2 linked regions of the Homo sapiens genome follow. The protein of the gene in region 1 binds, or shares a complex with, the protein of each later gene. Each region holds a gene or a part of one and is shown in the gene's direction. Other genes may lie near its edges.

What was found. Proteins that work in one complex are often made in the same cells at the same time.
Region 2: the proteins of CASC3 (region 1) and EIF4A3 are in contact, whole or in part, in a crystal structure (PDB 2J0U), measured with the Homo sapiens proteins. Residues at the interface, in NP_031385.2 of Homo sapiens: Arg217, Trp218, Glu219, His220, Asp221, Lys222, Phe223, Glu225; in NP_055555.1 of Homo sapiens: Thr178, Arg179, Lys198, Ile201, Tyr202, Tyr205, Arg206, Tyr207, Leu208, Pro209, Pro210, Thr212, Lys231, Phe232.

The regions. Positions count from the first base shown.
Region 1 is NC_000017.11:40,138,548-40,142,296, forward strand, and holds the start of CASC3 (protein CASC3), read left to right. Parts: upstream 1-1,989; 5' UTR 1,990-2,001; coding exon 2,002-2,232; intron 2,233-2,659; coding exon 2,660-2,687; intron 2,688-3,022; coding exon 3,023-3,060; intron 3,061-3,506; exon of another isoform or gene 3,507-3,553; intron 3,554-3,749. UniProt on the Homo sapiens protein: Required for pre-mRNA splicing as component of the spliceosome. Core component of the splicing-dependent multiprotein exon junction complex (EJC) deposited at splice junctions on mRNAs.
Region 2 is NC_000017.11:80,133,777-80,137,185, reverse strand, and holds the end of EIF4A3 (eukaryotic initiation factor 4A-III), read left to right. Parts: intron 1-850; coding exon 851-958; intron 959-1,054; coding exon 1,055-1,182; intron 1,183-1,679; coding exon 1,680-1,696; 3' UTR 1,697-2,817; downstream 2,818-3,409. UniProt on the Homo sapiens protein: ATP-dependent RNA helicase. Involved in pre-mRNA splicing as component of the spliceosome. Core component of the splicing-dependent multiprotein exon junction complex (EJC) deposited at splice junctions on mRNAs.

The DNA.
Region 1 (3,749 bases):
AGTGCAGTGGCGCGATCTCGGCTCACTGCAAGCTCCGCCTACCGGGTTCACGCCATTCTGCCTCAGCCTCCCGAATAGCTGGGACTACAGGCGCCTGCCACCACGCCCGTCTATTTTTTTTTATTTTTAGTAGAGACGGGGTTTCACCGTGTTAGCCAGGATGGTCTTGATCTCCTGACCTCGTGATCTGCCCGCCTCGGCCTCCCAAAGTGCTAGGATTACAGGCGTGAGCCACCGCGCCCGGCCTTGAATTTTCCTTTCATCTCTGAAGGCATTCATAATTACTTCCAGTTTCATGTTATCTATAAATTTGATAAACATCAGGATCCTTAACCATGTCATTTATAAAAATTTTACTCAGGAAAGGCCGGGCGCGGTGGCTCACGCCTGTAATCCCAGCACTTTGGGAGGCCAAGAACGGCGGATCACGAGGTCAGGAGATCGAGACCATCCTGGCTAACACGGTGAAACCTCATCTCTACTAAAAACATAAAAAGTTAGTCGGGCCTGGCGGCAGACACCTGTAGTCCCAGCTACTCGGGAGGCTGAGGCAGGAGAATGGCGTGAACCCGGGAGACGGAGCTTTCAGTGGGCCGAGATCACCCCACTGCACCCCAGCCTGGGCGACAGACAGAGTGAGACTCCCTCTCAAAAAAAAAAAAAATATTTTACTCAGGGAAGAATTCTATGCCATGGTGGCCTTTGTTTGATAACATACATTATTAACGTGCACTCCTGTAGGTGCACTAAAAACTTAGCTCATGCACTTTGTATATCCTTATAATGGTCCAAAGAAAACACACTGATTCTTTTCAATGGTGGCCAATGCCTTGCCAAAATGAAATAATTTCCATAAACCTTAAGAAGGAAATAATGTCAGGATTTTGAATCAACATCTGTTTCTACTGACCATTTATTTTTAAATAGGTTCTAAAATCCTGACAAGGGCAGTAGCTCATGCCTGTAGTCCCAGCACTTTGGGAGGCTGAGACGAAAGGATCGCTTGATCCCAGCCAGGAGACAAGCCTGGGCAAGAGCGAGACCCCATCTCTACAAAAAACAGAAAAATTAGCCGGGTGTGGTAGTGTGTGCCCGTTGTCCCAACTACTAAGGAAGCTAAGGCAAGGAGGTCACCTGTGCCTGGGAGGTCAAGGCTGCAGTGAGCCGCGCTACTGCACTCCAGCCTGGGCAACAGAGTGAGACCCTGCCTCGAAAAAGCCAAAACAAAACCGGTAATACTGGCATCATACCAGCCTGCACTTTGGGACAGGTGATGGCTGGGGTGGGAAGAAACGTGAAGAGGAAATGAGAACACAGAGAAAACGCTGCAACAAGAAGTCCTCTGGCTTCACTGCAGACAACTGGTTTCTCCTTCGCCCGTTATCTTAAACAAGGCTGGTGCAGCAAATCTGACGCAGCACTACAGCTTTTAAGATTTACCTTGATTCGTGATTTTACCAAGCAAAGGAATGCAGTAAATTGACCTGCTTCAAACGTAGGTAGAAGTGAGAAATGGAAACAGAAAACCATGAAACAGCCCTAGTGTTGCAGTGAAGCTGTGACAGGTTGACTCCTTCCACTCGGGAAGCCCAAGATGGCCGGGCCAGGAACCCGGGAGGCTGCTGAAGTCTCAATTCCCCTCGCCCTAGGCCTGCCCAAGGGAAGTCAGGAGCCGCGCCACGCCCCCTTACATCACCGATAGACGTAATCCGGGTCGGCCGCAAACGTGCCGCAGGCCTAGGCCCCGCCCAGTGCCCCGCCCCTCCCCCAACACACACACACACACACACACACACACACACCCCAACACACACACACACACCCCAACACACACACACACACACACACACACACACACACACACACACACACACACACACACAGCGGGATGGCCGAGCGCCGCACGCGTAGCACGCCGGGACTAGCTATCCAGCCTCCCAGCAGCCTCTGCGACGGGCGCGGTGCGTAAGTACCTCGCCGGTGGTGGCCGTTCTCCGTAAGATGGCGGACCGGCGGCGGCAGCGCGCTTCGCAAGACACCGAGGACGAGGAATCTGGTGCTTCGGGCTCCGACAGCGGCGGCTCCCCGTTGCGGGGAGGCGGGAGCTGCAGCGGTAGCGCCGGAGGCGGCGGCAGCGGCTCTCTGCCTTCACAGCGCGGAGGCCGAACCGGGGCCCTTCATCTGCGGCGGGTGGAGAGCGGGGGCGCCAAGAGTGCTGAGGAGTCGGAGTGTGTGAGTGCGCGCAGGCGGGGCGGGGTGGGGACCGGGCGGCGAGCCGGCCGGGGGCGGGGTGTAGGTGATGCTAGGTAGTCTGTGAGTTGATAGTAGATACTGGGACTTTTTTTTGTTTTTGAGAGAAAAGGGGAGTTATCCCAATGCGAGTTTGCATCCGGAGTTCCAAGGGAAGAAGAAGGATTGGGGGTTTCTGGGAGGATGGTAGAGCCGCTGGAGATGGAAAGCGGATGTTTTATTCAGAAGTCGGGGCTGGAGGGAAGGAGACCAGACCTGCCTTGGCTACTACTTGATAAAGATTTACCTATCTCTGTCTCCCTCTCCAACCATTTTGTGCTGAATCTTCAGCTTTTCACCCACATTTCTTTATTGGGCTCCCCACCTCTGGAAATCACAGAACTAACCCATGTCTTCTGCTTTCTTTCAGGAGAGTGAAGATGGCATTGAAGGTGATGGTGAGTAGCATCTTTTACCCCATTAGGACAAGAGTTTTTTTTAACATAAACTCAGGTCATCTATTTCCAACATCGACATTCTCACACACTGTCACGGATTTAGGGCCACAGAGTGCCTTTTTGTAACATAGTGGTTAAGAGCATAGGCTTTAGCAGTATAGTCTTCAGCAAGTTACCCTCTGAGCCTGTTTCTCCTTTTGTAAGTGGGGACTATAATTTTATCCACGTTGTAGGTTGATGTCAGAATTAAATGAGACTCTTAGTCTGACCTGTAATAAGCAGCCAAAAAATGTTTCTGGGTTTCTTTTTTTCCACATATTTCTGTTTTATTTCAGCTGTTCTCTCGGATTATGAAAGTGCAGAAGACTCGGAAGTGAGTATGACAGGTTTTTTCCTATGGTATAGATCAGAAATGCTTTTTAAAAACGTGTACACACCTTCGTTGCAAACGTACCATGACCTCCGTGTTTATCCTCTTGTGTATTCTTCATTTATGCTTCTGAAAAAGTGTTACAGAAGGTCTTGTTCACTTTAGACCTAGGGAAAACTTGGGGCACGCCGTCTCAAGCCACAGGTGTTATACTGTTAGTTGGCTTCTCTTCCTGTCTGAAGAATATGAGGTTCTAAATAAGAGAGTGAGGATATCTTGAAGTCCTCTGAAAGATGTTTGACAGTTTGTTTTATGCAGTGTAGGTTGAGAAGCCAGCCAATTGGTTATTTTTTTCCAAATCTATCTGAAGACTTTGAAAGGGTAGGATTCGGAATGTTTTGTGCCAAGAGCATCCATCATTTTATAGGTGGGGATTTTTCTGTTTTTAGGAGAAAGTTTCCTGTCTTTTGGATAAACTACTAGAGATGCCATCAGAGTAAGTGTTTGTTTCCTGGGTTGTTGAGTGGACTCCTGAGTTCTGGTAATGGGATTATATATAGGGGGAATTGGATGGTGGATCAAAGATTTTGTCTATACATTTTTAGAACTGTTACTACATTTTAGAATCTGTTAAGCCCTTGAGGATGGAATAGTGAACACTATAACAAAATTCCTATCTTTAGAGATCTTAC
Region 2 (3,409 bases), about 40 Mb from region 1:
TAACTAGCCTTAACTAGCCAGGTTGGTCACCTTGGTTACAAGCGTGTGTCTTCTTTTCCAGTAAGTAGGGGGGTTTTCTGTTCATCGTTTCGATTAGTTTAATTCCACAGTGGTCAGAAAGCGTGGATTGGGTGGTTTCATTCATTTGAACTTGATTCAGACTTCCTTCTTTGCCCACCTTGTGGTCAGCTTAACATATGTGCTGTGTGTGTCTTTTTTTGTTTGTTTGTTTTTGAGACAGTCTCACTTCGTTACCCAGGCCGGAGTGCAGTGGCACAATCTTGGCTCACTGCAACCTCTGCCTCCTGATTTCAAGTGACTCCTGTGTCTCAGCCTCCCGAGTAGCTGGAATGGCTAATTTTTTTTTTTTTTTTTCATTTTTAGTAGAGATGGGGTTTCACCATGTTGGCCAGGCTGGTCTCGAACTCCTGACCTCAGGTGATCCATCTGCCTCAGCCTCTGGCAGTGCTGGGATTACAGGCATAAGCCGCCGCCATGCCCGGCTGAAGTTACCGTTTTTAATTTTTTGCTAGGCAAAAGTGAAGTATTTTTCCCAATTATTGGTTTAGGACCGATTAAACAAGTTAAAGATAGTCTAGTAAAAGATGTCTATTTTTTTAATCTGATGGAGCACATGACCGAAGTAACTAAATCCACCAACAGCCCCTCTGCACAGGGGTTTCTGGTGCTGTCCCTGAGGCTTCACGTTTGCAGACAGACTGTTGAGAGAGGAGAATCTCGTATATTTTGGACCTGCAGCCAGGATTCCTTAAAATTAGCAATGGAAGCAAGTCCAGTCTTACACTTGTATGAGTAATTTAATCGCCTCAAACACTCTTTCTTTTTGCAGCCGAGTGCTTATTTCTACAGATGTCTGGGCCAGGGGGTTGGATGTCCCTCAGGTGTCCCTCATCATTAACTATGATCTCCCTAATAACAGAGAATTGTACATACACAGGTAAGGTGCAAGCTCTCATTGGCTTCACTTCTGTGACACATTTACTAAATCTTGATTGTTATATATACTAACTGTAATATTATTTTATTCCTGAAGAATTGGGAGATCAGGTCGATACGGCCGGAAGGGTGTGGCCATTAACTTTGTAAAGAATGACGACATCCGCATCCTCAGAGATATCGAGCAGTACTATTCCACTCAGATTGATGAGATGCCGATGAACGGTAGGAAATCGTCCAGCTCTACTGTAATTGTAGAGGGAACTTCCCTATTCTTAGTTTGGGGCACCTGAGTTTGTTTTTTTGTTGTTGTGGGTTTTTTTGTTTTGTTTTTGAGACGAAGTTTCGCTCTGTCACCCAGGCTGGAGTGCAGTGGCGCGATTTCGGCTCACTGCAACCTCTGCCTCCTGGGTTCAAGCAATTCTCCTGCCTCAGCCTCCTGAGTAGCTGGAATTACAGACACGTGCACCATAGCCAGCTAATTTTTGTATTTTTAGTAGAGACGGGGTTTCACCATGTTGGCCAGGCTGGTCTCGAACTCCTGGCCTCAAATGATCTGCCCACCTCAGCCTCCCAAAGTGCTGGGATTACAGGCGTGAGCCACTATGTCTGGCCTGTTTTTTGTTTTGAGAAGTCTGTTGTGAGGTTTTAGTTAAATTTACGTTAACAAATTTTCATTTTGTTTGTGTTGTTCCTTAATCTGTTTCTTTCTTCACTTTCAGTTGCTGATCTTATCTGAAGCAGCAGATCAGTGGGATGAGGGAGACTGTTCACCTGCTGTGTACTCCTGTTTGGAAGTATTTAGATCCAGATTCTACTTAATGGGGTTTATATGGACTTTCTTCTCATAAATGGCCTGCCGTCTCCCTTCCTTTGAAGAGGATATGGGGATTCTGCTCTCTTTTCTTATTTACATGTAAATAATACATTGTTCTAAGTCTTTTTCATTAAAAATTTAAAACTTTTCCCATAAACTCTATACTTCTAAGGTGCCACCACCTTCTCTAGTAACTTACTGTGTAGTCTTGGGTCATTTCACTCACTTTTCTTTTTTTCTTTTCTTTTTCTTTTTTTTTTTTGAGACAGTCTCCCTCTGTTGCCCAGGCAGGAGCGCAGTGGCGTGATCTCCTCTCACCGCAAGCTCCACTTCCTGGGTTCATGCCATTCTCCTACCTCAGCCTCCCACGTAGCTGGGAGTACAGGCGGCCGCCACCATGCCAGGCTAATTTTTTTGTATTTTCAGTAGAGACGGGGTTTCACCGTGTTAGCCAAGATGGTCTCGATCTCCTGACCTCGTGATCCACCCACCTCGGCCTCCCAAAGTGCTGGGATTACAGGCGTGAGCCACTGCACCCGGCCCATTTCACTCACTTTTCTAATCTTTTTTTTTGGAAAGAGTTTCATCGTTGATGAGTTTTGCTCTGCTGCCCAGGCTGAAGAGCAGTGGCACCATCACAACTCATTGCAGCCACAACCTCCTGGGCTCAAGCGATCCTCTCACCTCACCCTCCTGAGTAGCTGGGACTACAGGTGCATGCCAGCACATCTGGCTAATATTTAAATTTTTTGTAGAGACAGGGTCTCACTTTGTGGCCTAGGCTGGTCTGTCACTCATGGGTTTAAGTGATTCTCCCATCTTGGCCTTACAAAGTGCTGGGATAACAGGTGTGAGCCACCATGCCTGGCCTCATTTTTCTAATTTTTTTTTTTTGTTGTTTTTTTGAGAGCCCAGGATCTCCCTGTCGCCCAGGCAGGAGTATAGTGGCAGGATCATGACTTACCACAATGTTGACAAACTAAAACAGATAATTATCTGTTTAAATATTTAAATTATTAAAGTATTTAAGTTATCTGTTGAAATATTTAAAGTAATTACCTGTAGCTTTATAGGCACACAGCACCACAGCTGCCCAATTTTTAATTTTTTAAATGTTTTTAAAGACAGGGTCTCCCTCTGTTGACCAGGCTGGTCTTAAACTCCTGACTTCAAGCAGTCCTCCCGCCTCAGCCTCTCAAAGTGCTGGGATTACACACATGAGCCACAGACCGGGCTCTAATATTTGAAATGGAAATGTTAAAACTGGCCCCTCCCTTCCTGAAATTAGTTGGGATGATAATCTTTATTTCCGGGTTAGGGTGAGCTTGGAAATAATTTTTAAATTTCATCAGGTGATTCTACTTGAAGGCATCTGAAATTCTATAGTTTATGAATGGAACTTCCTTTCACTGAAACTGTGACTGGACCCTTGCTAGCCAGCTGGTGGCTGGTAGACCAGCTGCATCATCAGGAGTTGGTTAGAAATGCAAGTGCTCGGGCCCTGTCCTGGCTTGCTGAGTGAGAACCTGCAGGTAACAAGACTCCCAGGTGGCACTGCTGGCCGAGCGGGAGGAGCACGAGACTACAGGCCCAGGCAGCTTAATGAGTTCCTGGCAAGGAGGAACCAGATACAGG